2 separate regions of the Homo sapiens genome follow, and region 2 is linked to region 1. Evidence: fine-mapped expression QTL. Tissue or cell type: subcutaneous fat. Region 1 holds a variant in brackets; the other region holds the start of a gene. All regions are shown on one strand. Distances are from middle to middle.

Region 1 (2,906 bases):
GCAGGGGAAAGACGGGCTCCCATGATTCAATTACCTCCCAACAGGTCTCTCCCACAAAATGTGGGAATTCTGGGAGATACAATGCAAGTTGAGATTTTGGTGGGGACACAGCCAAACCATGTCATTCCAACCCTGGTCCCTCCCAAATCTCATGTCCTCACATTTTAAAACCAATCATGCCTTCCCAACAGTCTGCCAAAGTATAAACTCATTTCAGCATTAACTCAAAAGGCCATAGTCTAATGTCTCATCTGAGACAAGTCACTTCTGCCTATGAGCCTGTAAAATCAAAAGCAAGCTAGCTAACTTCTAGATACAATGAGGGTACAGGTATTGGGTAAATACAGCTATTCCAAATGGGAGAAATTGGCCAAAACAAAGGGATTACAGGGCCCACGTATGTCCGAAATCCAGTGGGGCAGTTGAATTTTGAAGCTCCAAAATGATCTCCTTTGACTCCAGGTCTCACATCCAGGTTACGCTGATGCAAGAGGTGGGTTCCCATGGTCTTGGGCAGCTCCACCCCAGTGGCTTTAAAGGGTACAGCCTCCCTCCCGACTGCTTTCATGGGCTGGTGTTGAGTGTCTGTGGCTTTTCCAGATGCATGGTTCAAGCTGTCAGTGGATCTACAATTCATGGGTCTGGAGGATGGTGGCCCTCTTCTCACAGCTCCACTAGGCAGTACCCCACTAGGGACTCTGCATGGGGGCTCCAACCCCACATTTCCCTTCTGCACTGCCCTAGCAGAGGTTCTCCATGAGGGCCCTGCCCTTGCAGCAAAATTTGCCTGGGCATCCAGGTGTTTCCATACATCTCCTGAAATCTAGGCAGAGGTTTCCAAACCTTAATTCTTGACTTCTGAGTACCCACAGGCTTGATACCACATGGAAGTTGCCAAGGTTTGGGGCTTCCACCCTCTGAAGCCCCAGCCCAAGCTGTACATTGGCTCCCTTCAGCCATGGCTGGAGAGGCTGGGAAACAAGGCACAAAGTCCCTAGGCTGCATGCAGCATGGGGATCCTGGGCCTGGCCCATGAAACCACTTTTTCCTCCTGGGCCTCCAGGCCTGCAATGGGAGGGGCTGCCATGAAGGCCTCTGACATGGCCTGGAGACATTTTCCCCTTGGTCTTGGGGATTAACATTAGGCTCCTTGCTACTTACGTTAAGTTTCTGCAGCTGGCTTGAATTTCTCCCCAGAAAGTGAGTTTTTCTTTTCCATTGCATAGTCAGGTTGCAAATTTTCTGAACTTTTATGCTCTATTTCCCTTTTAACACTGAATGTCTTTAACAGTACCCAAGTCACCTCTTGAATGCTTTGTTCCTTACAAATTTCTTCCACCGGATGCCCTAAATCATCTCTGTCAAGTTCAAAGTTCACAAATCTCTAGGGCAGGGGCAAAATGCC[G/A]ATAGTCTCTTTGCTAAAATGAAACAAGAGTCGCCTTTGCTCCAGTTCCCAAAAAGTTCCTCATTTCCATCTGAGACCACTTCAGCCTTCATTTTTGTTGTCCATATCACTATCAGCATTTGGCACAAAGCCATTCAACAAGTCTCTAGGAAGCTCCAAACTTTCCTACATTTTCCTATCTTCTGAGCCCTTCAAACTCTTCCAATCTCTGTCTGTTACTCAGTTCCAAAGTCGCTTCCACATTTTTGGGTATCTTTTCAGCAACGCCCCACTCTACTGGTACCAATTTACTGTATTAGTTCATTTTCATGCTGCTGGTAAAGACATATCTGAGACTGGGAAGAAAAAGAGGTTTAATTGGACTTACTGTTCCACATGACTGGGGAGGCCTCAGAATCATGGCAGGAGGTGAAAGGTACTTCTTACATGGCAGCACCAAGAGAAAATGAGGAAGAAGCAAAAGCAGAAACCCCTGATAAACCCATCAGATCTTGTGAGACTTATTCATTATCACAAGAATAGCAGGGGAAAAACTGGCCCCCATAATCCAATTACCTCCCACTGGGTCCCTCCTACAACACGTGGGAATTCTGGGAGATACAATTCAAGATGAGATTTGGCTGGGGGCACAGCTAAACCATAACAATTAATAATATTATTATGACCTATTTACAGGTGATAAAACCAAAGCAAATAGAGCTTGAATCAACTGCCCAGAGTAACACAGCAGGAAAGCACACATACCACTGTGTTAAACCCTTTAGTTTCTCCCTCCTTTTTTTGAGAGGGAGTCTCGCACACATACCACTGTGTTAAACCTTTTAAGTTCCTCTCTCCTTTTTTTTTTTTTTTTTTTTTTTTTTTGAGATGGAGTCTCGCTCTGTCACCCAGGCTGGAGTGCAGTGGCACTATCTCAACTCACTGCAACCTCCACCTCCCAGGTTCAAGCAATTTCCCTGCCTCAGCCTCATGACTAGCTGGGATTATGGGCGCCCACCAGCACACCCGGCTAATTTTTGTATTTTTAGTAGAGATGGGGTTTTGCCATGTGTGCCATGTTGCCCAGGCTGGTCTAGAACTCTTGACCTTAGGTGATCTGCCCACCTTGGCCTCCCAAAGTGCTGGGATTACATGAGCCACTGCACCTGGCCCCTCCTTTCTTCCTCCCTCTTTCCCTTCCTGCATTCCGCTATCCAACAGCCCATCAATCCATCAGTAATGCACAGACCTGCTATTCATCCATCCATCCATCTATCCATTTATCCATCTGTCCCTCCCCTCATCTAGCTATCAACCATGGAGTAGATGGAAAGGAAGAAGGAATTAAAGCATATGTCTAGAAATTTGGAATTTAACTAATTCAAATATATCCGTAGGATTTGGTGGCTGTAAAGCGCTCTCTTGTAGTAGTAGTAGCATGGCATGCATTATTAAAGAAACTGTGATTTGAATGAGTGTCAGTTTCTCAAAATGCAGAGACTAGCTCTATTCAAGAATCACA
Region 2 (2,906 bases), 150 kb after region 1:
ACTCCAAACACACACGTTCACACGCACGCGCATGTATACACACACACACAAACACACACACACCCCACCACAGTCTGGTTGGCATGAGCCCTACCTGCATGGGTTACCATTTCCATGATAACAGAGCACTCACAGGTGTACCGCTGAGAAACACCAGGCAGACCGTCATTTAAAGAGCTCCAAGGAGTCTGAGGGTGGGAAACTGCCGGCTTTCAGCAGACCACCCTGGCAATGAACAGAGCGCCAAGGAACCCTGGTATCTTCCGTAGAATATGCCACGGTCCCATAATCTTAGTGGAACTTCACCTTGACTGTACAGTATTGAATCGCAATACCTCTTATGGGAAGCTCTGAGCTCAGACATTCCAAAAGAAAAAAGTACCACCTTCGCCAACGAAAGTTTTTTTCTTGTCTTTAAAAAGGGATAGAGTGAGAGAGCTTAACGCCCCCTCCTCAACATTCCCTCGTCCCCTGCAAAGTTTTCCAACTTCAAAATACGCGGTCACCAAAGAGCGGGGTTCATTTGCTTATTCAAATAACTTTAATACTATGGGACATGTAAGACAGCAAAGGGGACAGGTGCAGATGGGCGATGCAGTAGAAAATATGCCTGTCCCCCCCTCCCTGCCCCTCACTCTCAAGCCCCGTTCCCAGTTTCCTCTCCACAAACAGCAGGATATCACGTCCGAGCCCAGCTTGCCCCTAGCCACTCGCAGGGACAGGGGAAATGTAAACTGTTGCTACAGCCTCCTGACACTCCACCGATAAATCAGAGGAAGCTGCAAAACTTCTTGGCTTGCTCAGCTATCCTCCACTGGCACTGAACGCCTATGCACAGATTTCGCAGTCAGCGCTACGGGAAAGGAAACCCTCAGTCAACCTGTTTGCAAAGCCTGCAGAACAACTCCCGGCCTTTCGATTTTGGGCGCCGAGGCTCTCCGCGCAGGACGGGAAACCCCCGGTTTCCTTCATCAGTATCCCTCAAACCAAGCTGGAGGTGAAGGGAACAGAGCTCCTGCTGCCCGGGTCCCAAGGTTCGGTCCCGTTGCATGAGGTCGGTGCTCAGGTCGCCGCGTGGGGCGTCCCCGCCCGCCTAGAGGGTCTCCGCACACTGCGCCCCGGGCAGCCCACGCTTCCCGCAGCCCCAAGCCAGAGGCGTCCGAGAAGATCCGCTTCCAAGTTCCCGCGTCTGGCTGGGAGAAGGGGCGACGATGGCTGTCCGGCGAGGAAAGAGCAAAGTCTGCGCCGGCAGCGCGCCCCCTTCCCCGGCGCTGCCACCCCGCGCCCCAGTCGGCCGGCCAGGGGGCCCGGCATCCCCGACTCGGGGCTCCGCGTGCTTGCACTCACCCGTCTCGCCAGAGCCGCCGCCGTAACCTCTGGGAGCCGCTGAGCCCCGAGCTTCCCGAGCGCAAGAAAGATGGTGGTGTGTGTCGGAAGACCACCCATTCCAGCGTCTGGCAACCCGGCGGCGACTCTGGCTCCTCAGCACTGAAGGAGGAGGAGGAGGAAGAGAAGGAGGAGGAGGAAGAGAAGGAGGAGGAGGAGGAGGAGGAAGGAACGGCGCAGTCAGACGCCATCTGCTGTACACCTCTGCGCAGCCATTGGCTGCCTGGTGCGTCCGAGAGCCGCGGGGCGCGGGGCCGCGGGGAGCCACCTTGCGCCTCGCCTACCCCGGCAGCTGTTCCCCACCGCCCCCTCTTTCTCCCCCCTCTCCTCCGCCTCCTACCGCCTCTGCCGCGCACCCGCACGACCCTCGGCTCAGCCTGCTCCCCAAGGCGAGCGACCGCGGGCGCGCTGGCCTGGACCTCAGTTCCTCTGCTCCCCGCAACTGTTTGCCGCAACTTTGAAGCTTCGGGGTGCCGGTGCGGGCTGGGTAAGGGGACTCCCCAGCTGAGCTCAGCCCGGAGTACCCAAGCCACTGAGCCCAGGAGAGGGTCGAGCGCTTTGCGCCTCGGAGGTCCATGAAGTGATGGGGGAAGAGAGCAAGAAAGAGTGGGGGTGCCCTAGGCCCCTGTTGATAACGCGCCCCAACACGCACACATGCGCGACACTCCGACACACAGTAAAACACACACACCGAGCCATCCCGCAAGGTCCGGATGGTCTGGCGTTCCTCTGCAGTCCCCGGGCACGAGAGGGCTTCGGTGTTACTAGGAGAAAAGACAAAGAAAATCCTATCTGGGGAGTACCCCTAGCAGCATACGTGGGGGAGAGAGAAAGGGAAACATTGTGGTGACTCCGGGAAACGCCGGGAGCTGGGTGCATACCTGCCTGGACATCCCCCCTGTTGCGGGGCTCCCAGCGACTGTCAGCCCACGCCCACCAGAGCCTGGGAAAACCCCTAGCTCTGGGGCCTCTGTTTAAAGGATTTGCAGTCCCGGGGCGCGGGGACCGGAGTTGCGGGAAGGAGCGCCTTAGGCTCCTGGGTAGCTCATGCCGGAAGCAGCAAAGGAGGTGGAGAGTCCGAGTCAGCCCAGGTGAGGCAGGAGTGCAGACAGCGGAGAGCACGTGGGCAGTCGAGGAGCAGAGTCACAGCTCAGAAAGTCGTTTGCTTACTCTCTGACACTTGTTCCAAACCCTTCTGGTTTTTGACACCTTTGATCTAGGGAACTTCTTAAGCTTGTTCAGAGAGATGAAGTTGCTTCAAAAGGGAGAAGGGGCGGGGGGAAGCATGAGGACTACCTATTGCCAATTACAGGATATTTTGCCTGTCAAATCTCTTTAAATGTGTGAGCCCAGCGACAGCAGGGATTGTATCTTTTCTATTTTATCCAATGCCTGGCACACCATGGGTGCTTAAAATGAAGCAAAATAATAATGATAAAATTAAAGCTTGATGTCATAGAGCAAATTAGATTCAAGAGATAAATAGAGAAGCTAGGATCTGTCACAGATAAAAAGAAATC

Direction of the effects. Alleles are on the strand shown, and positions count from the first base shown. SD is a standard deviation of normalised expression in the study named.
In carriers of allele G in region 1, the expression in subcutaneous fat of the gene that starts at base 1,490 in region 2 tends to be lower than with A alone (small effect, 0.31 SD a copy in GTEx).

Evidence for each region. PIP is the estimated chance that this variant, and not a neighbour inherited with it, causes the effect.
Region 2: it holds the start of THSD7B, and the variant in region 1 is fine-mapped to the expression of THSD7B in subcutaneous fat (GTEx, PIP 0.94).

Annotation. Positions count from the first base shown.
Region 1 is chr2:136,911,685-136,914,590 of GRCh38, reverse strand. All of the region lies in intron 2 of THSD7B (thrombospondin type 1 domain containing 7B), which reads right to left. Among named protein-coding and RNA genes, the nearest start is that of THSD7B, 150 kb to the right of the region's middle. The variant G/A (reference allele first, on the strand shown) is at 1,406.
Region 2 is chr2:136,764,129-136,767,034 of GRCh38, reverse strand. It overlaps THSD7B (thrombospondin type 1 domain containing 7B), which reads right to left and starts at 1,490. Exons shown (of 28, transcript NM_001316349.2): 1 at 1,348-1,490. RefSeq lists an enhancer at 1,007-1,508.